Linked DNA regions of Homo sapiens: regions 2 and 3 are each linked to region 1. The links come from fine-mapping of genetic effects on gene expression. A gene starts in region 1. Each other region holds a variant in brackets. All regions are shown on one strand. Distances are between the middles of the regions.

Region 1 (10,469 bases):
CCTTTAAAGAAAAAGGAACTCAGGCCTGGCGCGGTGGCTCCCACCTGTAATCCCAGCACTTTGGGAGGCCAAGGCGGGGCAGATCACTTGAGGTCAGGAGTTCGAGACCAGCCTGGCCAACATGGTGAAACCCCGTCTCTACTAAAAACACAAAAAATTAGCCGGGCGTGGTGGTGTGTACCTGTAATCCCAGCTACTCAGGAGGCTGAGGCGGGAAAATTGCTTGAGGCCGGGAGGTGGAGGTTGCAGTGAGCAAGATCACACCACTGTACTCCATCCTAGGCAACAGAGCAAGACTGTGTCTCAAAAAAAAAAAAGGAACTCGCTATTCCTTATGTTAAAATATAACGCTAATAGGACAAAGCATTGTCCTGTTGGCTGAGAAGGCTGTCACAGCCATGTTAGCTTCTGGTTTTATCCTCAGGCTAGGCCTGCTCTGCTCCCAGTCATGGGACTGGGATTTAAGGAGTTGACAGATGGTCTCCAAGCCATGCCTGGTTGTCTGCAAGTCTAAAAGGAGCTAATAACCAGTGGTGGGCTTCTGTATTCAGGCCTACCATTCCACCAGCAGCCCAAATGACCCCCGCTCAACACAGGCAAGACCACAGGCCCTGTGCTTGGCACAGTTCCTGCAAATGCAGAACAGCCCTCTTTATTTCAGTCTCCAGGCTTCTGGCTGGCAAGGAACACTGCCCGGCTGTGAAGCATTTTATAGGATTATAACGGGCTATGCCGAAGGCAAGTTCTGAAAGACACTTTGTGCCGTTTCTTTGAGTGAAGCTGCCTGTTAGAGCAGTGTTGTTCCTAAGCCCGTAAACACACACACAGGCAGAATGGGGAGCTCTGGGCTCCTGGGGCCACTTAGCTTGGCGGCATTGCAGGACTGGACCAGCTTCCCTCAACTGTGACACTAACCTTAGGGATATGCTTGGAGGCCCTCCTGCAGGGGTGCCTGTTTTCTGACAGTCTTTGTTCACGGACACCCCCAGATAGTGTCTCAGGCAGATTGCCTAAAACCCCAATCTGTCAATGGTGGAGCAGTGCATTACATATGGGGAAGGTGCTGAAGTCAGGGACCAAGGTGGAAATTGCATGAGGTCAGAAATACTCCTGAAATAGCTAATCCTGACCTTAACCTATATACTGATGGAAGTTAAAAAAAAATACTCCTGAAAAATTTGTTAAATGCCTCAAGGACCATATACATGGCTTGTATGCACCCCAAATTGCTGGCTTGAGTTTATAGGCTTTGTTGTACCAAAAATATCTGTATTTAAACACCAGAATCCTATTCTGGATGGTGAGACATTCGTGCTATAAGAAGCTTGGAAGAATCAGACCACCCAAGAGAATTCCAGATTCCCATCTTTCCTTTTGTAGCTTATGCTTTTTTATAGCACTATTTAAATTGTTACAGGCCATTAGTAATCTCTCTGCCTCTGTCTGTCTCTCTTTGCCTAGCATGTATAGTGGAAAAGAGGTATGTTTGTCATATATATGTTGTGTAGCCCTGTGTATTTATTGATTTTTATGGCTCCAGTATATTTTAAGGAAAGCAAAGAAATGTTTTAAGAGAAGATGGATACGGCAGCCTTCTCATCAATCAATATGACTGTTCATTGCTCTGCAATAGTTGTGCTTCAACCTAAGTTGCACTTTAACATTTCTTCGGAGGCCAGGCACAGTGGCTTATGCTTGTAATCCTAGCGCTTTGGGAGGCCGAGGTGGGTGGATCACTTGAGCTCAGGAATTCAAGACCAGCCTGAGCAACATGGTGAAACCTCATCTCTACAAAAAATATAAAAATTAGCTGGGCGTGGTGACGTGTGCCTGTAGTCCCAGCTACTTGAGGGGCTGAGGCGGGAGGATTGCTTGAGACCAGGAGGTTGAGGCTGCAGTGAGCCAAGATTGTGCCACTGCACTCCAGCCTGGGCAACAAAGTGAGACCTGTCTCAAAAAAATAAAATAAACATATTTCTTAGGGTTTGTTTACTGTTACACTGGATTTATGGTATGTCAGACTCCCTGCTTGGCCCTAAGGATACTGCAATGAGCAACCCAGTCCCAGGGCTATCAGACGTCGCCAGGGTGACTATTTTCTTCACCAAGTGCTGTAAGTATATTTTCCAACTTGAGAACACGGCCCAGCAAGCTCTTCTGGGAGTCAAAGCCAGTGGCTTTGATGGCAAATGTGTTCTAGTTGAGATAGTGGACTGTGAGGGCCAGAAGAGCAGGCAGAGAAAGAGGAATAAGAAGTGGCTCGGGTACTTGGGCACAGGTTCTTGGTGGCCAGACAAGCCCTGAGTGACGCATGTCACTGCCTCTGGCCCTGCCTTTGGCTGCATAGTTAATCAGGGGCTACTTGGAGATGAGGTTACTCTCACACCCCCACCAAGCTTGGCTAAGCTTTTGGAGCACTTGTGTGAGCTCCCCATCAGCACAGCTCAGGCTAAAAGGATAAAATTGTGTTCAGGAATACAAATAGGAAAAATCAGTGGTTCTGAGGTGCTCTTTCCTGCCCCATACCTCTTCTGAGACAGTTTTCTTCCTATTGCTTCAGGTTATCTATCGAGGGAAAAAAACTCAGGTGCTCTCTTCAATTTCAGTTGGAACCTCCACCCATTCAGGAGCTTCATTTACATGTGTGGTAATAACAGGCTGGTTACACAGGGCCCAATTCTTTCTGCCTCCAAAGGCAGTTTGTCTGCACTAGCTGGGTAGGAAAGTAAGTGGATTTAGTGTGAGGGTGTGGATTTGATACCTGGGATGAAGAGCTATGTATTATGAGGTGTCCTGCCTGAGAAGTAGGAACTGCTGGGTTCTGACCTCAGCTAGAAGCAAAGAGCACGCAAACAGGGACTGGATATCACCATTCCCACTATCCCCTGCATCCCCAGGAAGTAAAAACAAAAGATAGTGTCTCCATAGATCACCACCTGATGTAGTCATGACTTTCCACATGAGGAGGAAAAAGATTCAACAGTACAGTCTACAAAATAACTTTTGAGAGATGATCATTTTAGGGCTGGGCATGGTGGCTTACACCTGTAATCCCAGCACTTTGGGTGGTTGAGGCAGGTGGATTGCTTGAGCTCAGGGGTTGGAGACCAGCCTGGGCAAACATGGCAAAACCCTGTCTCTACAAAAATACAAAAATTAGCTGGGCACACTGGTCCAGGCCTGTAGTCCCAGCTACTTGGGAGGCTGAGGTGGAAAGATCACTTGAGCCCAGGAGGAGAAGGTTGCAGTGAGCCAAGATCATGCCACTACACTCCAGCCTGGGCAACAAAGCAAGACCCTATCTCAAAAAAAAAAAAAAGAAAGAAAATATGATAATTATAATATTTTAAAAAACTATAATTTCCCAAGAAGTGCCATGAATGAAGGTATTTTTCTTTTTTTCTCTTGAGACAGGGTCTCACTCTGTCACCAGGCTAGAGTGCAGTGGTGCAACCATAGCTCACCACAGCCTTGAACTCTTGGGCTCAGGAATCCTCCCACCTCAACCTCGGGATTAGCTGAGACTACAGGCATGCACTACCATACCTGGCTAATTTTTAAATTTTTTTGTAGAGGCAGGGTCTTGCTATGTTGCTTAGGCTGGTCTTGAACTGTTGGCCTCAAGCCACACTGCTGCCTTGGCCTTCCAAAGTGTTGGGATTACAGGTGTGAGCCACTCTACCTAGCCATCTTTTCTTTTTTCTTTTCTTTTCTTTTCTTTTTCCTTTCTTCCTTCCTCTATTTCTTTCTTTTTTTCTTTTCTTTTTTATTTTTTCTCAGGGTCTCTGTCACCCAGGCTGGAGTGCAGTGGTATGATCTTGGCTCACTGCAACTTCTGCCTCCCAGGCTCAAGTGATCCTCCCACCTCAGCCTCTGGAGTAGTTGGGATTACAGGTGTGCACCACCATCCCTGGCTAATTTTTTGTATTTTTTTTGTAGACACAGGGTTTCACTGCTGCCCAGGCTGTATTTTTCTTATAAAAAATTTTAAAACATGAGCTATAAGCTTAAGTCCCTTTTGTTCACTATCTTTAATTCTTTAAACCCAGGTGCCTCCCTTCAGCCACAGGGGAACTGGTAAAAGCTTGCTGTGGATTCTTGTAGACAGTGTTCAATGCTATTTACCCACAAATATGTCTTTATAGAAAATATATGATATTCTTTGGTAAACTTGTATTTTTTTTTAACACAAATGGTATTGTATTATGCTTAGTCTGCAATTATTTTTAAACTGAGTCTAATACATTGGAGATCTTTCCATGCCACACCCATAGACCCATCTCCTTTTTCACTGCTGCTAAGCGGTATTACACAGTGAAGAAAGTTTATTTAAGCACTCCCTATTGATGGATATATTACCATTGTTTCCAGTTATTTTTTATTTTTTACTGCCCCAGACAGGGCTGCTGCAAACAACCTTAAGATCAATCGCCTTCTTGGGCATTTATAATGTCATTGTTTCTCCAAAAAGGATCCAGAAAGGTGTGGTAGTGCCAGGTCATCCATGCACAGCTTTATACTTGAAGGACACTCTGTCAGATTGCCCTCGAGTGTCAGGCAGCCTCTGAATATGCTAGTCAAATTTAAAAGTTGGTGCAAAGTGGGAAAGGTCTCGAGGGAATTTTCCGGGGGTGGTGGAAATGTTTCGTATACCGACTGTGGAGGTGGTTATACGGGTGTTTACATTTGTCAGAACTCAACAAACGGTACTCTTAAAATGGGTGCATTTTGCCATTTGTAGATTATATTCCACTGACATTCATTTAAAAAACCAAACAAAAACAAAACAAAACAAAAAAAACGTGCAGTGGCCTGGGAACAGGGTAAGAGAGAACACCACCCCTTTCTAATGTGGGCTTTTAAAACGCTCGCTTTTCCCCCCAGGCTCCTTCCTGCCTCCAGGTGTCACTACAGCCTCCTTTCTCCCCGTTGCCCGGTTTCGCCCCAGCCTCCTTTCTACCAGCAGCCTTTCACCCGGAGAGTGCCAAAGAGCCCGAAAGGAGCTATCATGGGGTCTGCCTGCCCCGCAATCGCGGCCCACGCTCTGCGGGGGCGCCCGGAGTCGAATACCAGCGGGGAGAGAGAGGTCCCTCTCCACCCGCGGGACCGCCCCACGCCCCTCGCAGCCCCAGGAGGTGTCCGCGCTGCGGCACGTGGGCCCTCCCGGCAGCGTGGGGCGGTGCCGAGCCGGCGGCCCGCCCCCTCCCCACCCATCAAGGCGTGGCTGGCACGGTCCCGCCCACTCGGCTCCGGAGCCCAGTCGAGTCCTGCCCGGCTAGAAGCCGGCTGTCGGTCTCCGTGTCGCCGCCGCCGCCCGGCATCGTGGAGCTGGGGCCCCCTTTTGCCTGGGAGTTTTGTAGTCGCCTAGGGTCAGCGGTGACATCCCAAAGGGCAGGCCCGGCAGCCGCCATGGTGGCCAAGGATTACCCCTTCTACCTCACGGTCAAGAGAGCGAACTGCAGCCTGGAGCTACCCCCGGCCAGCGGTCCGGCCAAGGACGCTGAGGTAGGGCCGCGCCCTGCACCTGGACCTCTATGGGTCATCTGCCTGTCTCGTCTGCCTCCATCTCCCATTCTCGGCGCCCGTCCAGTGTCACTGTCTCTGTTTCCATCTCTCACTCTCCGTGTGTGCCACTTTCTCTCTCTACATCTCTCCCACAGTCTTCTTTGTGTCTCCCCGTCGCCATCTCTCACCCTGTCTCCTTTTCTCTCGCTTTTTCTCTGTGGACCAAGCACTAGCTGCCTCCTCTCTCCCTGTCCCTCTACCTGCCGGTCTGGGAGCAACTGCCTCCTTGCCTTTGCAGGGCTCTCAGACTGTCCATCTTCTGTCTGGACTCTCAGAGGGACTTTCTCCTACTGTCAGCAAGCCCCAGTGTCAGGGAAGTGTCAGCAAGCCCCAGTGTCGCTACCCTTTAAGCGAGTTTTTTTTGCCTGGGTTGTGAGAGCAGAGGGACGTACCAGCCCTCTCACCTGTCAGACTTGGCCTTGCAGCCCTTTGGCAGCAAAAACAGGACACAGCGCCTCTGCCTATCACCTGTGGCCAGTGAGGGTCATTCAGCCGGGGGGCTGGGGCTAAATGAGTAAATTGGAGTGTCTCCCACATGGATCTTGAAAATGAATTAAAGTCCTTAGGGTCAATGGAAAGCTGCCTTGGAACATTGGAAACATTTCTCTTTCTGGGAACTTTCCTGTGCCTTGCGGGCGATGTGAAGGAGTGCTCCCAGGTTATGTTTAGTCTGCCTTTTCCTCTTGCGTGTTATTTCTCTGGCACATAGCTCACTGGCCTTAAAGGTTGGGTTCAGCTGGAGGAGAAAGCATCCCTCTCTTTGAGGGTCTTAGGGAATACAGTCGCTTTCGCTAGATTACAGCTTTGCTGTGGTCAAGCTGCGGTGGAACCCACAGGACCCAGCTAGTCATTGCCGCTCATGCGTGTATCTGGGAGCTTTCCACTCTCCCACACCTCACTCTGCGAACATCAAACATCACCACCACCACTGGGGAAAGGCTGAAGGCAGGTGTGCATCCGGCCTTGTCACAGCATTCTTGAGGTTCCACCCACTCGCCTTCCTTGGGTCTGCTCAGCTGTATGCACTTGGCTCACTGAATCATGTATATTCGGGAGCACACCATCAAAGATTCATTTCCTCTAGCAAGAGCTGCTCCAGGCTGACAGGACTCCAAGCAGTCTCTGGTTGTATTCAGCTTTCTATACGCTGAGCACAAACTAACTTCTCCCTCACTCAAACCCAACCCTACACTCCAGCTCAGTCGAATATTATCACAAAGAGTTTTTGTTGCCAGCAGCTGTGAAAGTGTGATGGCCCTAGTGGCATTTGCATAGAATTCAGGTTGGTCAGGCCTGGAATGGATATAATATTTTTTCAGTGGGAACTTCCTAATTTAATCAACATAGGAGCAGCGCAATTGGTGCCCACTCAAACTCCACTTGTAAGGAAGAAAGGCATAACCAATAAATTAATAAATTGAAGTGGGCCAAAGAAAAGAATAGTGAGGATAGCTGAGGACTCTAACCAGTCCCTTCCTACTATTACTTAGTCCTGTGTTTTTGAGTAGTTTAGCTAAAGGCTTAGGTAAAACTTGCCTGCTTAATTTCATTTTATTCTTATACATAGAATATAGATATGTCTATATATCACAAATATGAAACTTATCACATGTCAAATATTAATTTTCTTCATTGGTAGCTGGATCTAGACTATAAAATATGACTTATTTTCCTCGTATGGGGATATCCTGATGTGAGAAATAAGGAAGGGGTTGGAATAGTTTTGGAAATAGTTGGTAAATATTTTTCAGATATCACTATTGGGGTTTTTGTTTTTTAGTGTTTGATTTAAACACTAAATCAAGTATGCTTTATACACTTTGAGGCAGAGATATCTTTTAGCTTCATCGATGAGCATATCACTTCCTGATAATGGAAATTGGCAAAATTGGAAAAAGAAACCTAAGTGAGTTTAGTGGGTAGTTTTCTGGTTTCCTTATCAGCGCAAAAGGCAGCCAACCCTTGTAGGCCTAGCTTCTCCATAAGCAGTTAACTAAAATATATTTTCCACCAGTAGGTGTCGTCAGTATTCATAAATTAAAAAATAGCATTCGCTTGTCAGCCTTTTGAAAAACATGATTATATAATTGTTTATAAGCTAGGCATTGACTGTTAATTCCTCTGAAAGTATTTTTTTAAGAGTGATTGTTTTCTTTGTGGAAAGAATGTGGTTATAATAAAAAGAAAAATAGATCTATCCAGAGGCCTTTCTAGGAAAACAGGACTTGTTGACCTTCAAAGGCCGTTGCAACAGAGCACCTGTGCCCTTTAAACATTTAATGGCCGTGTGTAATGGCTGTTCCTTCCGAATTTGCCTTGGGTAGGACAGTGCACACAGCATGGCACTGGGAAGTGCCTTCTAGCATTGACTCCTATCCTTGCAGCAAGTGTACTGGGGAAAATCACTTAGGAAAAGGCTCCTGGGGAACAGGCAAGTGGCATTGATGTGCATTTGATACCGTACACTGAGTAAAAAAATATGCAAAAATAAGCATTCTCTTAAAAGCAAATAAAATTTCTACTCAAGATTTAAGTGATTTGTAATTTTTTATTTGTGGTAGTTTCCAGTGAAAGCAAAAAATGATATTTTTAAAATGTATTTTTATTTTCTTTAAAAGATCTATTTTAAGCTTTTGAAAATATTCTACAGGGATTATAATATTGCATGTCTGTTAGTATAATACTGCCTCTTAATCTGCTATTTCTTATGACATGGGGGTTTGAATTGGTTGGCAAATGTTTAATTTTAATATCCATAATCAGTGAGGTCCTGCTGGCTGTAATCATTAATTGTGAAATCTAAGGAGCTTAGTTCATGGCTCTAGAATTTCACAGAAAAATGTGATATGATACGAGCATTAAGTTTATTTCTTCTGATCTTTGATGCAGCTTTGTTCAGTTTATCTGTTTTTGTATTTATTGGTCATCTACTTCCCATGCCAAAAGGGACTGGTCTACATAGCTGCGCTAAACACCTGATCAAATCACTAAAAGAAAATGTGTTACCTCTAATGAATTATCCTGATTGTAAGTTAAAAATCAATATTTCCCCGTAGTGAGGTTTGCTTTTTAAAAAGAAGGCTTAAAAAAAAAAAAAAAAAAAAACGAAGTAAAGAAAAGGAAGCAAGCTCAGGTAAGGTGCACACATTGGCTAAGGAAGCTAGAGCCTTGTGAGAAGCTTTTAAGAGTTTTAGGTCCAGTTCATTTTTAATCAAAATACAAAGAGGTGTTTCTGTTATTTTTGTAAGAATATATCTGACAACTTGGTGGACAACTTACTTTCAGTTTTAAAATTTACCATCTTAGATATTGGTCAGATTAGGCCTGATTTAGTTAATGGTATTTGTAGCCATTGCTTTTGACTCTCAGCAGTTTTAAAAATTTGTAGTGCCATAGACCATAGGCCTATCTCATGAATAGCTGAATACTGCCCTGGGTCTCCAAAGTATAGGTTCTTATTTTGACTTAGCCAGTAGCCTTGCATGACCCTGAGAATAATGACATGCACCTAGAAATGACAGAGCTCTGCTCCTTTTCTATGTCTACCATGTCTAGTGTCTCACTTGAGACCCCACACTTGTAATAAGGTTAACATAAAGCTTGTACTGTTCTCTCCACTTTATGAATAAGGACACTGAGGGGAAGCGATTTGCAGAAAGCTGCAAAGAAAATCAGCAGCTAAGCCAAGATCCAATGTCAAATTTCCTGATGGATTCCGTCCAGCATTTAATATCAGCATCCCTTGTAGCACCTAAGGGTGTTTACCTTTGTGGGATAAAAGGTGGGGTGGTAGTACAAAACTTAACAGACATGCAAAATACTTTAAAATATTATCTTTTAAGTATAACCTTGAGCACCTTACATAACTGAGAAGGTATCCTTTAAGGCCCACTTCTAAAGGGCAAGGTGAACCCTATGCTCCTGCCACGATTTATGCCTCTATCAGTCAACATGTGCATTTTAAAATTGTATGCACCTCGGGCTGTACTTCTTGAATGCCAGCTGAAAAGCCAGAGGGTTACTGGTTTCTAGTAATCTATACATTTCTTGGAATCTGTATCTTATTGTATTGAACAGATAGTATACCTGAACACACATGAAACTAGTCATAAGGAGTTATTGCAGTTAGAATCCTGTAATTTCTTCAGATGATTAAATAGACTCCAGGAATCATATGACCTCAGAGATCTTGCTGGATGGGAAGCCACACGGAGCTACCCAGAAAAAGGCCATCACTTGCTATAGGATCTGGTTATGGTCATTGAGCCATCATTCCGAGGCTGTTCAGTTGGAAAATTATTTTGGGAATCTTGGTCCTTAAGAATGCACATGAACTAGCAACAGAAGAGGAAAATATGTTGACTTTACATGTGTACATTTAATGCTGTTCAAGGGCATTGACTAGAATAAGACTGCCTGAGTCTCAATGCTGTCTCCACCACCTGCTAGTTGATGTGACCTTGGACAAGCTACTGTGCCTCTCCAAACCTGTTTCCTCAATGGTAAAATGGAGATGATGAGAGCTCTAACTCCTAGGACCATAGTGAGGGTCAAACGAGATGTTTCATATACAGCGCTAACCATAGTGCCTAGCATGTCGTAAGTGCTCAAAAAATGTCATTATTATTAAGACCTTTACATTTCAAAAAAAAAGATTCTTAAAATGGTTTTAAGAAACATGATGATCACCAGCCTAATTTCCTGAATGTTGTTTTACACACAGCAGTGCATTAGGGGCTTTACCGTAAGTCCTTTCATCATCACAGTAATCCTATGAGGTTGGTATTAATGCCCTGTTTTGTAGAAGAAGAAACAGGCTCAGAACAGGGTAGTGGCTTTCCCAGGATGGCTTTAATGCTGGGTCAAGGAGATGAGACTAAAATCCCAGTTGACCCTGAAGTCTG
Region 2 (10,469 bases), 48 kb after region 1:
AGTAATTGAGTTATGTAAATTTCACCTCAAGATACTGTCAAGTAGAAAGAGAAAACATTCTCGGCCAGGCGCGGAGGCTCACGCCTGTAATCCCAGCACTTCGGGAGGCCAAGGCAGGCGGATCACGAGGTCAGGAGATCGAGACCAACATGGTGAAACCCCATCTCTACTAAAAATACAAAAAAATTAGCTGGGCCTGGTGGCGGGCTCCTGTAGTCCCAGCTACTTGGGAGGCTGAGGCAGGAGAATGGTGTGAACCCAATAGGCAGAGCTTGCAGTGAGCCGAGATCGTGCCACTGCACTCCAGCCTGGGCGACAGAGCGAGACTCCATCTCAAAAAAAAAAAAAAAAAAAAATTCAGTTTTCTATGAATGTTAACAAATGCATGGAAAAAGTTTGGAAAGAGCTAGAACAAACTTAACAGTTGTTACTTCTAGGAGATAGACTTGGGGAAATGAGGGCATTTGTACTTAATTTTATATACTTTTGTAATGTATGAGAATTTAAAGTTAGCATACATTATTTTCAAACTGGTAGGGGGAGTTTAAAGTTAGCCAAGGACTGAAAATATAACAGGATAGGAGGTTGATTCTCTCAAGTGAAAGTGGAAACTTTCATTTTGAAGTTTTTGTGTGTGTTTCCTTTCTTTCTGCTCTTTAATTCTTAACTCAGCTGCCATCAGAACTGCAAACTGGGTTGAGCAAGTTACTTAATGACTCACTGCACTTGTTTTGACCTTTTAATGCTTGTGGCTAATTGATTCCGAGTGCTGGCGATCTGTGTGCATTTAGTTCCTGGTTACTGTTTACAAGGGACTGTTTTTAAGAGATCACAAGGATTTGTAAGATACCATTAGTGAACTGTGTATTTGGTGCAAGTACTTTCTTGACCTGCATAGGGCTGGTCCAGCCATCATGAGCTCATTAGTGAGCCCAGGAGCACCCCCACTACTTGTGCCAGCCTAAGGGGCTTGTGTTGCTACTTGCAGAGTGAGCGTCCTGCTTCCAGAAGGTTGTGGTAATACCCTGAAGCTCTTTGGAAGTTTCTTTTTACATTTTTCATTTATTCTTACATATATATCTATATATATTTTTTTAATTTAGAACTGAAATGAGGTCTTGCTACGTTGCCCAGAGTGGTCTCGAACTCCTCAGCTCAAGCCATCCGCCTGCCTTGGCTTCCCGAAGAACTGGGATTACAGACATGAGCCACCAAGCCCCGCCTCATTTTCTATTTTTTTTTTTTTCCTTTAGAGGGAGTCTTGCTCTGTCGCCCAGGCTGGAGTACAGTGGCGCAATCTCAGCTTACTACAATCTCCACTTCACGGGTTCAAGCAATTCTTCTGCCTCAGCTTCCCAAGTAGCTGGGATTACAGGCACCTACCATCACGTCCAGCTAATTTTTTTTGTATTTTTAATAAAGACAGGGTTTCACCATGTTGTTCAGGCTGGTCTTGAACTCCTGACCTCAGGTGATCCGCCCGCCTCAGCCTCCCAAAGTGCTGGGATTACAGGCGTGAGCCACCACGCCCGGCCATTTTAGACACTTTGGGAGGCCGAGGCGGGCGGATCACGAGGTCAGGAGATGGAGACCACCCTGGCTAACACAGTGAAACCCCGTCTTTTCTAAAAATACAAAAAATTAGCCGGGCGTGGTGGCAGGTGCCTGTAGTCCCAGCTACTTGGGAGGCTGAGGCAGGAGAATGGTGTGAACCCGGGAGGCGGAGCTTGCAGTGAGCTGAGACTGCGCCACTGCACACCAGCCTGGGCGACAGAGCAAGACTCCATCTCAAAACAAAAAAAAAAGGCTAAAAATATATAAAGGAGGACAGAAATCACTCATAATGTCAACATGAAACAACAATAGAATTTTGTGATGTTCCCTTTATATCTTTGCTCATGTGCATTTTTTGCATAACTATAAAATGTTCACATATAGATTTTTAATCCTGATTTTATTTTAGGCTACATAGAAGGGGTGTTTACATTTTAAATTATCTCTGAATTGTCTAGATAATATTCCATCCAGCAGGTAATTATAACTTTTTTTTTTTTCTGAGACGGAGTCTCACTCTTGTCGCCCAGACTGGAGTGCAGTGGCACGATCTTGGCTCACTGCAATCTCCGCCTCCTGGGTTCAAGCGATTCTCCTGCCTCAGCCTCCTGAGTAGCTGGGATTACAGGCACATGCCACCACGCCCCGGCTAATTTTTGTACTTTTAGTAGAGACGGGGTTTCACCATGTTGGCCAGGCTGGTGTCAAACTGCTGACCTCAGGTGACCCACCCACCTCGGCTTCCCAAAGTGCTGGGATTACAGGCGTGAGCCACTGTGCCCAGCCACTTACAACTTATTTAACAATGCCCTTATGTTGAATAGTTCCTTTTAAAATTTTTCTTTACTTTCTGGAATTTTATTGTTGAATCTCAAAATAACTGGGAACTACCTTAGAATGCCTTTGTGATGAAGGCTCATATGTCATAAGCAAATTCAATTCCTGACCTCAGGAAGTTTCTAGTTAAGAGCAGGTGACCAATAATTATAATCAAGTATGATCATTGCTATATCAGAAGTATGTCTGAATTGCTCTGGGGGAGGAGGATGGGAGAATGTTGGTGAAGACTTCTTAGAGGAGGTGCTGTTTGAGTTACATCCCGAGGGCAGTTAAGAGTTAGCCAGCTATGGCCGGACACAGTGGCTCATGCCTGTAATTCCAGCACTTCGGGAGGCCGAGGCGGGCGGATCACGAGGTCAGGAAATCGAGAGCATCCTGGCTAACATGGTGAAACCCTGTCTCTACTGAAAATACAAAAAATTAGCCGGGCGTGGTGGCGGGCGCCTGTAGGCCCAGCTACTCAGGAGGCTGAAGCAAGAGAGTGGCGTGAACCCAGGAGGCGGGGCTTGCAGTGAGCCGAGATCGCACCACTGTACTCCAGCCTGGGCGACAGAGCAAGACTCTGTCTCAAAAAAAAAAAAAAAAAAAAAAGCCAGCTATGAAGTGATGGAAACACATTCCAGGAAGAGAAGATTGTTTGAAGGGAGTACAGAGGGATGGCAAAGCATGACATATTTAGGGAATGACAGATAGCCTAGTATGGTTGGAGAAATGGAGGCTCATGGATGAGTGGCAGGATGGGATCCTAAATATGGAGACTGTGGTCAGATTACAAGAGACTTCCTGTGCCAAGATGAGGAGTTGAAACTTCCTGCTGAAGGCCACAGAGAGCCATGGCAGGGAACACTTCCTAAATAACAATGTGGTTTTGGAGCACAGCAACCTCATTGCTTTGGCAAAGTCTCCAATAAGTGTGATGAAATCTTCTAGGATGAAGACTGAAAATGATGCACTCAGCTTTCTTCTGGATCATTTGTATTTGTCATGAAAAGCATTTTGGTAGCATGTTTAAGTCACACAGGTGGACTTCTGCGGCCTCTTTGGGAAATAGGAAAATACCTCAGGGACAGGAATCATGTGCTGCAAAGATGGTATTTAGTATGTGTATTAGTCAGGACTTTTCAAGTTGACAGAACCCCAACTGAGATAATAGAAAGGGAAATGTCTTTCTATATGTAATGAAAATGTCTAAGGGTGGTTCTTTCTGGTTTCAGGCACAGTGGGATCCAGAGGCTCAAGCAGTATTGGTAAAGCTTGCTCCCTTCCTGCCTCCATTGGTCACTCCATCCTTCATTCTGGGTCTCTTTATTCTCTCCTGTAGCAGACAGATGCTTCTGTGTAACTAGGGAGAGTTGCTGCTGGAAGGCCCTGCTTGTGTTCTCTCTTGAACTCACAATCCCAAAGGAATACTCTTTCCTCCTTTCTCCCGTAACTCATGTGACAAATTTCAGGGAATCACATGCCCATCCCTGAACTAGGATGGTGGAATACTCTATTGGTCAGGTCTGGGGGTGCCCACCAAAACTATATGTAATAGGATACCCAAAGTTAGTGGGATTCTATTTATAGAAGGAGGAGAGTAGGAGTACTGGCCAAATGTTTGAATAAATAAAGGCCATCCACTATTGTTATCTCTGGTTCTTTTAAAGAGGGGAGATGTCCACTGGAAAAAAGTAGAGCTCATCACGTATCCAAGAACTGCCTTCATGCGTGAGTTTGGCCTGATATGTGCTTGCACTATAGTCCACTTGGTATCCAGGTCACACAGAACAGATACTCCCAGCACATGTTCCAAAGCAGCCCCCTGTCCAATTTTCCTTAGCACGTAGGCTCAAGACAATGCCCCACTTCCCAAAGGCCTTGTGGCAATGTCCTCTTTTTCTTTCACATATATGATTTATGTTCCGTCAACGACAGGAAACTGCTCAAAGATCCACCCAGTCCTGCCGCTGCCCCCGTGATGGTTTGTTTTTCTCATTGTTTAGCGCTCCATTAGCTTCCGCAGTGAGAGCCGCCCTGACATCCTCGCCCCCCGACCCTGGTCCAGAAATGCCGCCCCCTCGAGCACGAAACGGAGAGATAGCAAGCTGTGGAGTGAGACCTTCGATGTGTGCGTCAATCAGATGCTTACATCCAAGGAAATCAAACGTCAGGAGGTAGGCTCGGGGCCCATGGAGCTGGCTGTGTGTCTGGAACAAAGGTGCATTGCAGCGTCAGCCATGCTGGAATTTGCGCCTTAGTCTCCAAATCAATTCTTCATTGCGTTTGCAGAAGGATAAACAAGAGTGTCTGACCTTGGGGAAGGAACTGAGAAACCAGAAACCAGCTGGGAGGGT[G/TG]TGGCCCCCACTTTAAAAAGAAACTGATGTGAAAATATGAATTTACAAGAAGATGAAACCAAGTGTCTATTTAGGATTCTGAAGTTCACAAAAATAATCATTTTAGTTATATTTTGTTAGCAACTTATAGACTATTTTAAAATATTTAGTTTACATAGCTTTGATTCAGCTTCATGGAAAACTTCCTTTCTATAGAATCCAGTTAATTTCATTCCCGGTAAGTTTTCTGTATCAGTTGCCCTAAATGACTCTGATAATATTACCCTGTATAGAAGAGCTTGTTTAAGTGCTTGTGCCAGGCTGTGCTGAGCACTTCATGTGTGCATCATCTGATGAGATCCTTGGAGTATCCAGCTCAGGGTTGTGCCTCCACCTGCTTTGTCCTCAGTTTACCAAGCAGCCCCAGGTGGAGGGAGCTTTCAAAGCCTGACCACTGTTTCCCTATATCCTGAAACACAGTAGACCCTGAAATATCGTTACAAACTTGTACTCCTTTAATAATGTAATGTTTGCTGACAGTTTGACTTCCCAGATGGAAGTGAAAGAGTGTTCTGTGCATCATAGCTCTTTAGCATGATGGCTTAATAGAGCCAAATTAGAAACGGTCCATTTACCTACTCTTCCACACAGCCAGCGCCTATAATTTTATTTGTTGTACCTGTGGGGCTGAGAAGTGGTTTAGAATGAATTAACTTCACCAGGTTGTATTTGGAGTGATAAAATGTTGGATTCTTCCTACAATCTCAGCCTCAAGGCAGTGGATAATACAAATAAAACTTTCTGCTGAGATTCGCCTTCTGTCGAGTAGAAGAAAAAGTGGGGATGGCCCAGTTAATAATACTGCCACATCCATTATCTAGAAGAGCCTCTGAATCACTTCTTATGATGGCCTCTCACAACAAGGGTACCAAATCCATGGCTCACACTGTAATTATTTTACCTAAAATAGTTCCCTCTTGTTCAGCTGCATCAAAGTTCTGTAACATGAAAGATGACTTTTTGGACTAGAAATGTGTAGAAACTTTCTCCCACAAACAGAGAAGCACAATATGCAGCAGTTTTGCAATATCTTTTCATTGCAGGTTTAAGCATAGATGCATTTGCTTCAGGTTAACGTAACTTAAAATACTTAAATATGTAAATTTGGGGTTTTGAGTGGTGGAGCCAGCACTATTTGAATATGGTCTTGTAAATGAAGGGAGAATTCAGTGAATATGTTTATCTTTCCTTGCAGGCGATCTTTGAGCTTTCCCAAGGAGAAGAAGACTTGATAGAAGACTTGAAATTAGCAAAAAAGGTAAATTTAAATCCAGCAGTCACTTGAGTCAAGTCACATTTTTTTTCTTGAGTAATTTCACAACCCTAAAGTGGTGCTTCGTGAGAACTGTCTTTATGACTAAGACTGGTCTGCTACCACACACCAAGCAGTGGGGAAAGTGTTTCAAAACAAGAGGGCAGAATAGCTCTCCAGACCTGGCACCTTTAGGGGTTTACCTCTGTATGTCTCTAATGCATGTCAAAGAATACTTCAGCCTAAATCAGAAAGTGTCCATGGAGGCCTCGCCTTATGTATATTTCATTGTCCTAGAAGTCTCATATGTAGGACTCTTTGCCCATAGGAGAGAATGTGTGCATGTCTGAAACTTGAACTGAGTCTTAGAAATAAAGCCATTTGAATCTCAAAAGTGAATAAAGTGAAATGAGGCAATTGCATACTATCATATAAGTTGGGGTCTTTTATATAGGAATTTGTTTTCTAATCAACATTTTGTGTGGGGAGGAGGAGGACAACAAACCTTCCTCAAAAACATTTTCGTTCCAGTGGCACAGCCCCCCAACTCCATGGCTTGGAGGCTAAAATCCAGACTCCTTCATCTGATATTCACAGCCTCCTCGAAGAATCACAGGGTTGGAAGGCTACATCCCTTCTTTTAAGGGTTTTTAGTCTTTCTGCTAAGATGAAATTCCACCTCTAGCATTCCTGAGAGATGGCCACCCAAGCTTTGCTTGGACACAGCCAAGAAACTGAGTTTTAGGCAGAGCTGGAGGAGGAGGAGATCAGAGAGGACAAAGAAGTTATTTCACTCTGAGAGTTATCATGCTGGTGTCTAACTCCCCTTTCCTGCATCAAGATTTGCCAAACTCAAGCACCTTCAGGTGTTTCCCAGCCATCCTTTTGCTTATGGTGGCCCTACCTTCCTAGAAACTTTTCTCTTTCGTTTCAACCATTCATATCCACCCATCCTTCAGGAACCAGCTCAAATCTCAGTTTATTCTTACATAACATTTATTGCCTCCTTCTCTGTACCAAGCAGCTTATCTTCAAAACTTCCCTTGGCCACTCCAGCTTTAATTCTCTGACCTTCTAGAGCAGTTTTGATTTGATGGCTTTTTGCTGTCTTGTGACATCAGTCTGGTTTTTAATCTTTAATTTTTAAACATAAGCCGGGTCCGGTGGCTCACACCTATAATCCCGACACTTTGGGAAGCTGAGGCAGAAGGATCACTTGAGGTCAGGAGTTCAAGACCAGCCTGGCCAACATGGTGAAACCCTGTCTCTACTAAAAAATACAAAAATTAGGCTGGGTGCTGTGGCTCACGCCTGTAATCCCAGCACTTTGGGAGGCCGAGGCGGGCAGATCACGAGGTCAAGAGATCAAGACCATCCTGGCCAACATGGTGAAACCCTGTCTCTACTAAAAAGTACAAAAAAAAAAAGAAAAAAATATTTTTTAAACATAGATTTAGTTTTCCATGAGATCAGAAACTAAAATATAAACTAGAAAATATTTTAGTTTTTCTTATCTTCCCCATTAGCTTTATAAAATTCCTTGAAGGTAGGAGACTTTTAAGTCTTTGTGTTCTATTTTAGTGCCCTGGGTATAACTGTGTATTCTTGTTGTTTAATTTTCTCTAGTAAGAGGTGATAGGATTATCACCTTTGCTCTCTTTGTTCAAATCAGTAGTAAAGGATACCAATCACTGTTTCTTTCCTCTTTTTCTTTATTTTAAATATGTACTAATTGAAAAAAGAATCTGCTAGTAGCTAGTTTTGAATAAAGTGGGATTTTTTTAAGAGGCAGGATCTTGATTTTGAAAACATTTTAACAGTCAAATCTGTTCTATACCTAGGATTTGTGCTCTTTCCTAGATATATGACATACTAGAATAAAAAAGCTTTTGAAAAATCTGCTTTGGTTTATCAACCACAAAGGCTTAAGGCAGTGCTGGTTTCTCCTCTCCTCCAGCCACACCTCTCTGCTGTTTCTGCAGCTTTATGGGAGAAGTTGTTAGAGAGCCAGAAGTTTTGTTATTGGATAGGACCTCTCAGGAGCCACTTACATGAACAATGTACTTCCTCTGATTTTAAACATGTGCTTCCATCTCTTGCCGTTTTTGTGCAGGCCTATCATGACCCCATGCTGAAACTCTCCATAATGACAGAACAAGAGTTGAATCAAATTTTTGGAACACTGGACTCTCTAATTCCTCTACATGAAGGTATAATTTTGTTCCCAGGATGAGTCGTGACTTGTAGCCTTAACTGAGTTGTCTTATAATGAGTGAGTGATTATTAATTGCCTGCAATGTGAATAACCCAGAACCTACTTCCAGCCCTGTTCATATTTGAATGCCTAACAAATAAGCATCTGTTTGTTTTTTGCCAGAGCTCCTTAGTCAGCTTCGAGATGTTAGGAAGCCTGATGGCTCGACTGAACATGTTGGTCCCATCCTCGTGGGCTGGGTAAGAAAGTTCTCTGGTCTTTATTGAAGATAAATTTCAATAATATAGATGGGAGTTTCATTTTAGCTAGACTTTTTTTATTTTTATTTTTATTTTTTTACAAATGTTGGTTTCACATCAGAAAAAAAAATCCTAGTAAAATTTTAATTAAATTTAAGTTTTGTATCTTTAAAGCATGAAAATAGTTTTTTTCTTATTACAAATTTATTGCATTTAAAAGTAACAGGGCCTTTTGGAACAAAATAAGTAAAGGTACACATGAAACTATTACTAGTTTCGTATCAAAATAAAACTAGTTAATATTCCGTCAGGCCAATCGCTAACATAATATACTCCAATAAAAATTTATTGACATATATCCACTACCAAAAAAAAAAAAAAAAAACTTGTCATGCTATTAAAAAAAAATTCTCATGGTCAAAATGCAGTTTTATAAACAAGATCATAAGTAAAGGTTGCTAATGTTTAGCATATTAAAAAAAACTTTTTAGGCCATAAAAAAAATCTCATGGTCAAAATGTAGTTTTATAAACAAGATAATAAGTAAAGGTTGCTAATGTTTAGCATATATACCATGCTAAGTAATTTATAGGAGAGCTGGGTATATGGTGACCTTCATCCTAATATAATCCATTCCTTTTCCTAATTAAATAAAAAGAAGTAAGCTGTGATCTTAGATTAGGAGTCATAAATTTATGATCCTGGGGCTGGATTTGTGTTTTATTGTGTACTTAAAGTTGTTTGTTTCACTTACGCTAGACAAGGCGTGTGCTCTTATTTTGCCTCAGTCCCCACCGCTCCCTATTCTACACATTTATGTTTCCTTCTGTGAGTGCTTGAATGGTCCACCCCAGTTCCAGGTGTTTTTCATTTGTTATAAAGCAGATAATGAGAGGAGATTACTTTGCTGACTTATTCCAGGCAAGATTAGGTCTCTCATCACTCTGTTGCTCACAGTATTCCAGAAAAATAGGCAGGAAGTACCACAACAGCTAATATTAGAGATTATTTCACTGTTTGGAGAGTGTTGTGAAGGTTATAAATCCTACTGTTGCTATGTGAGTTCTCTTTATTCCGTTACATCTGCATTTTAATCTTCCTAAAACCTTTCAGTTAACATGCCTTGATAACACATAGATGTGCAGAAAGTTTTAACATTGATCTTTTAACTTACGTTTCTCAATGACTGCCTTGATCAAGATACTTGATGAGAGTTTCATGACTTAAATAGCTTTAGTTCAGGAGTCAATTTTAGCACCAAGGCTGAAATATCCCAAAGGTATCCGAAAGGCAAGTAATGTTCTAAGATGAATAATTTAGAAAATATGCCTTAATATTTCAAGAGAGATCATTCATCTTATATTTTTGACTTTCATTTTATTATGAGCCATCGTAGATGTTTTAACTTCTTTAGCCCACAAAGAAATTTCTCCAAAGAGAGCCAGCCAACCGGAGACAGACAGAGACAAAGAAGGTATAATGAGTAGAGAGTGCCTCAGTGTCTCTTAAACTTCCTGAGTCTGTGGACTGCTTTGATATGGGGGTAAATGGAGCAGTTAGGCCACACTCCAGAATTTGTAGGATAACTCCTCTGCTTTTGATGAGACAGCAGTACAGGACTACATGGTTTCCTTAAGCATCATATGCAAATTGTCAGTTTATGCCAGAAGCAAAATTGTAGGAATTTGCCTTGTTAGTAACTTTTTGCTGAAATAAACATTTGTCACGTTTATTAGAAAATTGGTTTGATCTGGGAGCAGCTTTGCAGTCATTTTCTGTACATACCCAAAGGAAGTGTGACCATGCTGGCCCATTGCTATCTGGATGCTTCAGACATCAAATGAGGACTTGGATCTTGAAGAGCAGCCTAAAATTAAACAACTGGCCCGTTGTTGCCAGACTTCGTGAGAAATGGCCCTTATTTATCAGGCCTGACAAGCTGTTAAATGTTTTTCCTCTTTTAACTGCAGATGTGTCCGTCTGAGTGGGAACAG
Region 3 (10,469 bases), 93 kb after region 1:
AATGCAAATAAAAACTACAATGATATTATCTCACACCCATCAGTGGCTACTGTAAAAAAACAGATAATAAGTTAGCAAAGATGTGGAAAAATTGTACTTCAGTGGGAATGTAAAATGGTGCCACTGCTATGGAAAGCAGTACGGCAGTTCCTCAAAAAACGAAAAACAGAATTACCATGTGATTCAGCAAGCCCAATGCTGGGTATACACCCAAAAGAATTGAAAGCAGGATCTTGAAAAGATATTTGCACACCAGTGTTTGTTTCAACATTATTCACAATGGCCAAGACATGGAAGCAACCCTAGTATCAATGGATTAATGGATAAACAAACTATAGTAAATACACAAAACAGAATATTAGTCAGCTTTAAAAAGGAAGAAAATTATGATACATGCTACAGCATGGTTGAGCCTTGAGGACATTATGCTAGGTGAGATAAGCCAGTCACAAAAAGACAAACACTGTATGATTCCACTTACATGATGTATCTAAAGTAATAAAATTCATAAAAACAAAATAGAATGGTGGTTGCCAGGGGCTGGGTGGAGGAGAACATAAGGAGTTTTTGTTTAATGGAGATAAGAGTTTTAGCTTTGCAAAATAAGAAAGTTCTGGAGCTTTATTGTACAATAATGTGAATATATTTAACACTACTGTACACTTGAAGCCAGTTAAGGTGGTAAATATTATGTGGGGTTTTTACTTATTTCTTTTGAGATGGAGTCTCACTCTGTCGCCCAGGCTGGAGTGCAGTGGTGCGATCTCGGCTCACTGCAACCTCTGCCTCCTGGGTTCAAGCTATTCTCCTGCCTCAGCCGCCTGAGTAGTTGGGACTACAGGCATGTGCCCCCACGCCTAGCTAATTTTTATGTGGGTTTTTTAAACTACAATTAAAAATGAATAAAAATAGGCTGAGCTCGGTGGCTCATGCCTGTAATCCCAGCACTTTGGGAGGCCGAGGAAGGTGAATTGCCTGACCTCAGGAGTTCACAACCAGCCTGGGCAACCTAGTGAAACCCGGTCTCTACTAAAATACAAAAAATTAGCTGGCGTGGCGGCGTGCACTTGTAGTCCCAGTTTCTCAGGAGGCTGAGGCAGGAGAATTGCTTGAACCTGAGAGGCGGAGGTTGCAGTGAACCAAGATCGTGCTGTTGCACTCCAGCCTGGGCGACAAAGCGAGACTCCGTCTCAAAAAATAAAATAAATAAAAATAAACCAGGACTGGGCATGGTGGCTCATGGCTACAATCCCAGTACTTTGGGAGGCTGAGGTGGAAGGATCACTTGAGGCTAGGAGTTCTAGACCAGCCTGGGCAAAGTTATGAGATCTCATCTCTACTTAAAATGATACATTAGCCACACATGGTAGTGCATGCCTATTAGTTTCAGCTATTCGGGAGGCTGAAGTGGGAGAATCACTTGAGGTTACGAGTTTGAGGCTGCGATGAGCTAGGATCATGCCACTGCACTCTAGCCTGGGCAACAGAGCGAGGCTGTGTCTCTAAAAAAAAATAAAAAATAAAAATAAACCAAACTTCTGGTCCAGATAAGATGATGTAGACTCATTCCTCCCTGTTCCTCTTCACTAAGTACAACTATAAACCCTAGAAATAACTCAAAAGGCGACCAAAGAAGAATTCTGAAGGCTAAGAATAGGAAGGCAAACTGGTTTGAGACCCTGGAACTAGAGAAACAACACAGTGGCAGGGTATCTTACTCTCCACCCAACAGAAGACACTGACCCAGGCCCAGCATTTCTTGAAGCAGCAATAGAAGACAGCCCTGGTAGGCTCATTTTCCCAGATCCAACAGGAGCCTTCCAATACCACCAGGTGAGGCCAGCACCACCAGAGATGGGGATTGGTTGGGAGTCCTGCTAACAAGTGCCATGGGAAATAGTCTCCTTCCCCACTGAGAGATACCAAGATAACCAGGTGGTACCTGCAAGAGGGACCCTGCCACAAGTGGCTCAGCCCAGGAAGCCTCTGTGTTCCCATTGGCCTGAGACTCCTCTCCCCCACCCAGAGATGGCAAGGTCCCACCACAGCAAGCACCGGGCCCAGGAAGCAGTCTTTGTCCCTCACAAGCAAAGGGGATCCTGCCAAGCACCCAGCCAGGGAGACATCTTCATCCTCAAGGCTCTGAGTCTCATCTCCCCAACTGAGAGACACCTGGTGGTCTAGCCTGGGGAACCTCTGTTCCCTCCAGCAGCACCAATAAGGACCAGTGGGAGCCTCAGCAGCATCAGATAAACCAAGCAGACCAAAATAACACTGAAAGCGCTCTGAAAAATGTCATTGGAACCACAGCCCATAAAATTAGCCCAGGACCTGCACACTAAACCTAAACAAGGTAACTGCCAGTTAAAAGATTTAAGTAATATGCTCCTAATGTAATAGAAAAATGTCTAGAATATAATAAAAAATCACCCATCATGCCAAAAACCAGGAAAATTACAACTTGAATGAGAAAAGATCATCAATTGATGCCAACAAAAAAATAAGTCAAATACTGGCATTATCTGACAGGATTCTAAACCAGCTATCATAAAAATGCTTCAAAAGTCATTACAAGTTCTCTTCAGGAAGTCTCAGCAAATAAATAGATCTTATATTAAAATGTACTGAATGGAAAATATAGAACTTAAAAATACAAGCGCAGAAAAATTTTAAAATACTTCTTTGAATGGGCTCTATAGTAAAGTGAAGATGACAGACAAAAGAATCAGGGAATTCGAAGACAGATAAATAGAATTTATCTGAACCATAAAACACACTTAAATATTAACAAATAATGATGGGTGAGGTGGCTCACGCTGTAATCCCAGAACTTTGGGAGGCCGAGGTGGATGCATTGCTTAAGCTCAGGAGTTCAAGATCAGCCTGGGCAACATGGCAAAACCCTGTCTCTACAAAAACATATAAAAAAAAAATTGCTGGGTGTGGTGGCACCTGCCTGTAGTTCCAGCTACTGGGGAGGCTGAGGTGGGAGGATCACTTGAGCCCAGGAGGCAGACGTTGCAGTGAGCCAAGATCATGCCACTACACTTCAGTCCTGGTGACAGAGTGAGACCCTGTCTCAAAAAAAAAAAAAAGATAAAATACAGTTAAATATATATATATATATATATATATATATATATGAGCAGAGTCCCCAGGGACCTGTAAGATTTTTTTTTTTTTAAATCCAGCATTGTTATACACAGACAAATGTGTGCAAGTTCAAATGTGGACATCTAAATAAGATTGTCAGATTTTATCAATGTCAGTATTCTGCTTGTGATGCTCTACTGTAGTTCTGAAAAATGGTTACCACTGGGGGGAAGAAGGTAAAGGGTTCACAGGATCTCTTTGTATTATTTATTACAACTTTGCAGTTATCTCAATTAAAATGTCAGTGAAAAGATGACCCAGGTACAATGTGGAAAAGGAATGGCAAATACTGGAACCATGCCTGGCTAATTTCTTGGTGTTTTTTTGTTTGTTTGTTTTTGTTTTTGTTTTTTTTGAGACAGAGTCTCACTCTGTCGCCTAGGCTGGAGTGCAATGGTGTGATCTCGGCTCACTGCAACCTCTGCCTCCCAGGTTCAAGTGATTCTCCTGCCTCAGCCTCCCAAGCAGCTGGGATTACAGGCACCCACCATCACGCCCAGCTAATTTTTGTATTTTTATAGAGACAGGGTTTCACCATGTTGGCCAGGCTGGTCTTGAACTCCTGACCTCAGGTGATCCCCCCACCTCGGCCTCCTAAAGTGCTGAGATTACAGGTGTGAGCCACCGAGCCCAGCCATTTGTTTGCTTTTTCAGACAGGGTCTCACTATATTGTCCAGGCTGGTCTCCAACTCCTTTCTCAGCCTCCCAAAAAGCTAGGATTACAGGTGTGAGCCACCACACCTGGCCTTGATTTTCTGTCTACCTTTTATATTAATTAGAGAAGTACTAAAATTTCCAACTGTAAGTTTGGATTTGTCTATTTCTCCTTTAAATTCTATCAGTTTTGGGATATGTATTTTGAAGATTTGTTATTGGATACCAACACATTCAGGACTGTTTTATCTTCTTGATGAAATTACCCCTTCATGGTTATGAAATGTTTCTCCCTTAGCTCTAGTAATACTCCTCATTATAAAGTCTCTTTATATTGGCATAACCACTCTAGCTTTCTTTTGACTTGTAGCATATATGGTATATATTTTGTCATCTTATATATTTTAATCTGTGTGTGTGTGTGTGTGTGTGTGTGTGTATACTTTTTTTTTTGAGACAGAGTCTCACTCTATCACCCCAGCTGGAGTGCAATGGCCCAATCTCAGCTCACTGCAACTTCCACCTCCTGGGTTCAAGCGATTCTCCTGCCTCAGCCTCCCAAATAACTGGGATTACAGGCACCTGCCACCATGCTCAGCTAATTTTTTGTATTTTTAGTAGAGATGGGGTTTTACCATGTTGGCCAGGCTGGTCTCGAACTCCCGACCTCAAGTGATCTGCCTGCCTTGGCCTCCCAAAGTGCTGGGATTACAGGCTTGAGCCACCACGCCCGGACTAATATATATTTAAATAGATTTATTGTGGACAGCATATATATGAGTCTTGCTTTTTTTTTTTTTTTTTTTTTTTTTTTGCGACAGAGTCTTGCTCTGTCGCCAGGCTGGAGTGTAGTGGCATGATCTTGGTTCACTGCAACCTCTGACTCCCTGGCTCAAGAGATTCTCCTGCCTCAGCCTCCGAGTTGCTGGGATTACAGGCACATGCCACCAGGCCCAGCTAATTTTTGTATTTTTAGTAGAGACAGGGTTTCACCGTGTTGGCCAGGATGGTCTCAGTCTCCTGACCTTGTGATCCACCCACCTTAGCCTCCCAAAGTGCTGGGATTACAGGCATGAGCCACCACGCCCAGCCTCTTGCTTTTTTTTTTTCTAATCTAGCCTGACAGTCTCTTTCAATTGGAAGCTTTATACCCTTTATGTTTAATGTAATTAATAATATAATTCATTTTAAGTCTGCCATCTTGTTAGTTGTTTTCTGTATGTTCCATTTGTTTTAGATTCCACTTTCTCTCTTTACCAACTTTTTTTGGATTAATTACTTTTTTTTTTTTTTTTTTGAGACAAAGTCTCGTTCTGTCACCCAGGCTGGAGTGCAGTGGCAAGGGAACCTCTGCCTCCCGGGTTCAAGCAATTCTCATGCCTCTGCCTCCCAAGTAGCTGGGATTACAGGCACGTGCCACCACGCCCGGCTATTTTTTATATTTTTAGTAGAGACAGGGTTTCGCCATGTTGCCCAGCTGGTCT[C/T]GAACTCCTGACCTCAAGTGATCTGCCCGCCTCGGCCTCCCAAAGTGCTGGGATTACAGGCGTGAGCCACAGCACCTGACCAGATTAAATATTTTCTAATACTGTATTTGTCTCCCCTTTAGTAGTTATTCTCTTTGGTCTTTTTTGGTTTTTTGTTTGTTTGTTTAGTGTTTGTTCTTTAAATTATCACCATCTACCTTCAAATAATATCATACCGGCCACGCGCGGTAGTTTATGCCTGTGATGCCAGCACTTTGGGAGGCCAAGGCGGGTGGATCATGAGGTCCAGAGTTTAAGAGCAACCTGGACAATATGGTGAAACCCCGTCTCTTCTAAAAATACAAACATTAGCCGGAAGTGGTGGCAGGCACCTGTAATCCCAGCTACTCCGGAGGCTGAGGCAGGGAACTGCTTGAACCCAGGAGGCAGGGAACTGCTTGAACCCAGGAGGCAGAGGTTGCAGTGAGCTGAGATCGCGCCACTGCACTCCAGCCTGGGCAACCGAGTGAGACTCCGTCTCAAAAATAATAATAATAATAATAATAGTATCATACCTTTCATGTATAACGTAGAATCTTACACCAATATACTTCCATTTCCTTCACCCCCTTCTCTGTGGTAGTGTTGTTACACATGTGTCTTCTCATGTTTTAAGCTCCAAATTTTATTATTATTTTAACATAATAGAGATAGATAGACATATTTATCTTTTAAAGAAATAAAACAATTAGAAAAAATTGTTATATCTGTGCCAATATTTACCTTTTCTTTTTTTTTTTTTTTTTTGAGATGGAGTTTCACTCTTGTTGCCCAAGCCGAAGTGCAATGGCGCCATCTCGGCTCACTGCAACCTCCACCTCACAGGTTCAAGTGATTCTCCTGCCTCAGCTTCCCGAGTAGCTGGGATTACTGGCATGTGCCACCACGCCCGGCTAATTTTGTATTTTTAGTAGAGACAGGGTTTCTCCATGTTGGTCAGGCTGGTCTCAAACTCCTGACCTCAGGTGATCCACCCACCTTGGCCTCCCAAAGTGCTGGGATTACAGGTATGAGCCACCGCCCCCGGCTATATTTACCTTTCTAGTACTCTTATTTCATTTGTATAGAAAAAAGTTTCCATTTGGTATTATTTTATTTCAGCCTGAAGAACTTTCTTTGAACATTTTTTATATTGGAGATATATACTAACAATAAACTTCTCGGCTTTTGTTTGAAAAATCTTTAATCTTGTTTTAATTTTTAAACAGTATTTTCACTGAAAATAGAATTTTAATCTACAATATTTTTTTCTCTGAGCACTTTAAAGATATTACTTCATTGTCTTCTGGTTTGCAGTTTCTACCAGAAGCCTGTGAATAATTCTTATCTTTGTTCTTCTGTATGTAATGTGTATTTGGGGTTGAGAGGAGCCTGCATTTAAGATTGTATCTTAATCATTGGTTTTTTAGTGATTTTAATTATGACATGCCTTGGTGAGGTTTGTATGTGTGAGAATGTTTATCCTACTTGGCATTCAATGAATGTCTTGGGTTTCTGTGTCTGTGATTTCCATAAAATTTGAAAACTATAAGCCAATATTTATTAAAATAGTTTTTTTGTAGTATCCTTCCTTATGAGACTCCAATTATGAATATGTTAGACCACTCCATATTTTTCCAGAAGTCAGTGAGGCTCTGTTCATTTGGTTAAAAAATATTTTTAACATTTGTGCTTCATTTTTAAAAACAGATTCTATTGCCAGGTTCTCAAGTTTACTATTTATGTTTTAGCAGTTTCTAATCTTAATACCTCCAGAGAAACTTCCATTTTCATTCTGATACTATATTTTAATCTTTGGATATTCCATGTGTTACTCTTTTGTAGTTTCATTTCTTTGCTTATGATGTTCATATTTTCACTTAACTGTGTTTACACTGTAATAATAGTTATTTTAATATTTCTATCTGCTAGTTCCAGCATCCGTATCATTTTTGTCTGTTTTCATTGATTGATTTTCTCTTGGTTATAAGCTAGCACTTTCTGGCTTCTTGGCATGTTTAGTAATATTTTATTGGATGCTGGACATTGTAAGCATCTGAATTTTGTTGCTGTTGTTGTTATTTTAAGGATATTAGGCCAGTTTACTTTTGTTGAGCACCTTGATAAAAAAGAAGAAGAATATTAGTCCAGCCGTGGTGGTTTATGCCTATAATCCCAGCACTTTGGGAGGCCAGGAGGATCACTTGAGCACAGGAGGTCGAGGCTGCAGTGGGCCATGATTGCACCACCATACTCCAGTGGTGCAATCATAGCTGGAAACAAAGGAAGAGAAGAGAAGAGAGGAAGAGAAGATCAGGCTTTGTTATGGCAGGCAGGTAAGCTAATTATAGATTATTTTGATACCTTCTTTTTTTTTTTTTTTTTTTTTTGAGGCAGAGTCTCACTCTGTCAGCCAGGCTGGAGTGCAGTGGCACGATCTTGGCTCACTGCAACTTCTGTCTCCCGGGCTCAAGCAATTCTCCTGCCTCAGCCTCCCGAATAACTGGGATTACTGGCATGTGCCACTACACCCAGCTAATTTTTGTATTTTTAGTAGAGACAGGGTTTCACCATGTTGGTCAGGCTGGTCTTGAACTCCTAACCTCAGGTAATCCGCCTGCCTCGGCCTCCCAAAGTGCTGGGATTACAGGCGTGAGCCACCACACCCAGCCCAGTTTGATACTTTTAAGGCCTATTTTAATTTTTGCTATGGCAGATATAGATTAGCCTTTACTCCAGGATTATTCCGTCTAAGCATGATCCCCCTGAATATTTGTCACATGGCTCAGTTAATTATTGAAGACTTTCCATTGGTTATTCAGGACCTTGGCTAATTGAAGTTCTCACTTCTCCCCACTCAGTTTGAACACTGAGTGTAATTCAGTTTACAATTCCAAGTCTTTATTTTCTCAGCCTCATGAAGGTTTTACTCCACACATGCATAGTCAAGGGGACTTCCTATGCGGTCTTCTGAAACTCTTTTTCTACAAAGCTTCCAATTCTCTAGAATTTTGCCTGGCAACTTTCAGTTACCTTCTGCTCCCCAAATCTCGGAGAGATTGCTCAGCTTCACTTGCATTCCCCTCCCCGCATCCACAACCTGGAAATTGCCTTCAGACAAAATTCCGGTGTGGTTTTAGGGTTTACCTTTTTGTTTCCTTTCTTTTAGGGATTACAATCCACACTGCCTATTGTCTGATTTCTGAATATAGTTGTTTAGAGTATTTTGGCCAGTTTTCTAGTTGTTTATGGGGGGATCAGTATAATTGGAAGCAGGAGTCTCAAAGTCATTTTTTAAATTTCTGTTTTAAAATGTAACAGCTCTGTGTACATACAATGGAATATTATTCGGCCTTAAAAAGAAATCCTGACATATGATAAAACATAGATGAACCTTGAGGATGTTATGCTAAGTGAAACAAGCCAATCACAAAAAGACAAATACTATATGATTCCATTTCTATGAGGTACTTAGAGTAGTCAAATTTATAAAGACAGGAAGTAGAGTGATGGTTAGCAAGTACTGCGGGGAGAGGGAAATGGCGAGCTGTTCTTTAATTGGTATAGAGTTTCAGTTTTGCAATATGAAAAGGGGATAGGAGATTATTTGTACAACAGTGTGAATATGCTTAACACTATTGGACTGTATGCTTTTTTCTCCCATATATATTCTGCTTATGTAGACTGTACACTTAAAATGGTTGAGGCCAGGTGCAGTGCCTCACGCCTGTAATTCCAGCACTTTGGGAGGCCAAGGTGGACATATCACCTGAGCTCAGGAGTTTGAGACCAGCCTGGCCAACATGGTGAACATGCCTCTGTAAAAAATACAAAAATTAGCCAGCCAGAGAATCACTTGAACCCGGGAGGCAGAGGTTGCAGTGAGCCTAGACTGCACCACTGCACTCCAGCCTAGGAGCCTGGGCGACAGAGTGAGACTCCATCTGAAAAAAAAAAAAAAAAAAAAAAAAAAAAGGTTGAGATGGTAAATTTTCTGTTATATGTATTTTACAATTTTTTTAAAAAACAGCTAACAGTGACTGGGCGCGGTGGCTCACAGCTGTAATCCCAGCACTTTGGGAGGCCGAGGTGGGCGGATCACGAGGTCAGGAGATCGAGAACATCCTGGCTAACACGATGAAACCCCATCTCTACTAAAAATACAAAAAATTAGCCAGGTGTGGTGGCGGGTGCCTGTAGTCCCAGCTACTCGGGAGGCTGAGGCAGGAGAATGGCATGAACCGAGAAGGCGGAGCTTGCAGTGAGCCGAGATCACACCACTGCACTCCAGCCTAGGCGACAGAGCGAGACTCCATCTCAAAAAAAAACAAAAACAAAAAAACAAAACAACAACAACAACAACAAAAACCACACCTAACAGTGTTCCAGTCATTTTACATTACGCTTAATCTGTGCAACAACCTCTTAAGATGTAGGTGCAATCATTATTATTTTGTTTTGAGACACTGTCTTGCCCTATTATACAGTGTGTGGTACAGTGACGTGATCATAGCTCACTCTAGCCTTGAACTCCTGGGCTCAAGCAATCCTCCTGCCTCAGCCTCCCGAGTAGCTAGAACTACAGGCATGCACCTCCATGCCCAGCTAGTTTTTAATTTTTTTGTAGAGGTGGGGTCTTGCTTTGTTGCCCAGGTTGGTCTTCAACTCCTGACCTCAAAGGATTCTCCCCCTTTGGCCTCCCAAAGCGCCAAGATTGCAGGTGTGAGCCACTGCAGGTGGCTGGCCTAGGTGCCATTTTTTTTCTCAACATGGAGTCTTGCTCTGTTGCCCAGGCTGGAGTACAGTGCGGCGATCTCTGCTCACTGCAACCTCCACCTCACTGGTTCCAGCAATTCTCCTGCCTCAGCCTCCCGAGTAGCTGGGACTACAGGTGCCTGCCACCCCGCCCAGCTAATTTTTTTTATTTTTTAGTAGAGATGGGGGTTCACCATATTGGCCAGGCTGGTCTCGAACTCCTGACCTCGTGATCCACCCACCTCAGCCTCCCAAAGTGCCAGGATTACAGGTGTGAGCCTCTGCGCCCTGCTGGTGCAATTATTATCTCAGTTTTACAGATGAGAAAACTCAGACCCATAGTTACAACATATATATGTTGTAACTGTTATTATAAATATATATACACATGCTTATATAAACAA

Evidence for each region.
Region 2: its variant is fine-mapped to the expression of ARHGEF3 in whole blood (TOPMed, PIP 0.99).
Region 3: its variant is fine-mapped to the expression of ARHGEF3 in blood mononuclear cells (TOPMed, PIP above 0.99).

Annotation. Positions count from the first base shown.
Region 1 is chr3:56,796,739-56,807,207 of GRCh38, reverse strand. It overlaps ARHGEF3 (Rho guanine nucleotide exchange factor 3), which reads left to right and starts at 5,259. Exons shown (of 10, transcript NM_019555.3): 1 at 5,259-5,505. The coding sequence starts at 5,410. RefSeq lists a silencer at 5,090-5,259 and an enhancer at 7,624-7,673.
Region 2 is chr3:56,749,062-56,759,530 of GRCh38, reverse strand. ARHGEF3 (Rho guanine nucleotide exchange factor 3) reads left to right here. Exons shown (of 10, transcript NM_019555.3): 3 at 4,380-4,550; 4 at 5,965-6,027; 5 at 8,135-8,231; 6 at 8,399-8,475. Among named protein-coding and RNA genes, the nearest start is that of ARHGEF3, 48 kb to the left of the region's middle. The variant G/TG (reference allele first, on the strand shown) is at 4,731.
Region 3 is chr3:56,703,270-56,713,738 of GRCh38, reverse strand. No RefSeq gene overlaps it. Among named protein-coding and RNA genes, the nearest start is that of TASOR, 25 kb to the right of the region's middle. The variant C/T (reference allele first, on the strand shown) is at 5,293.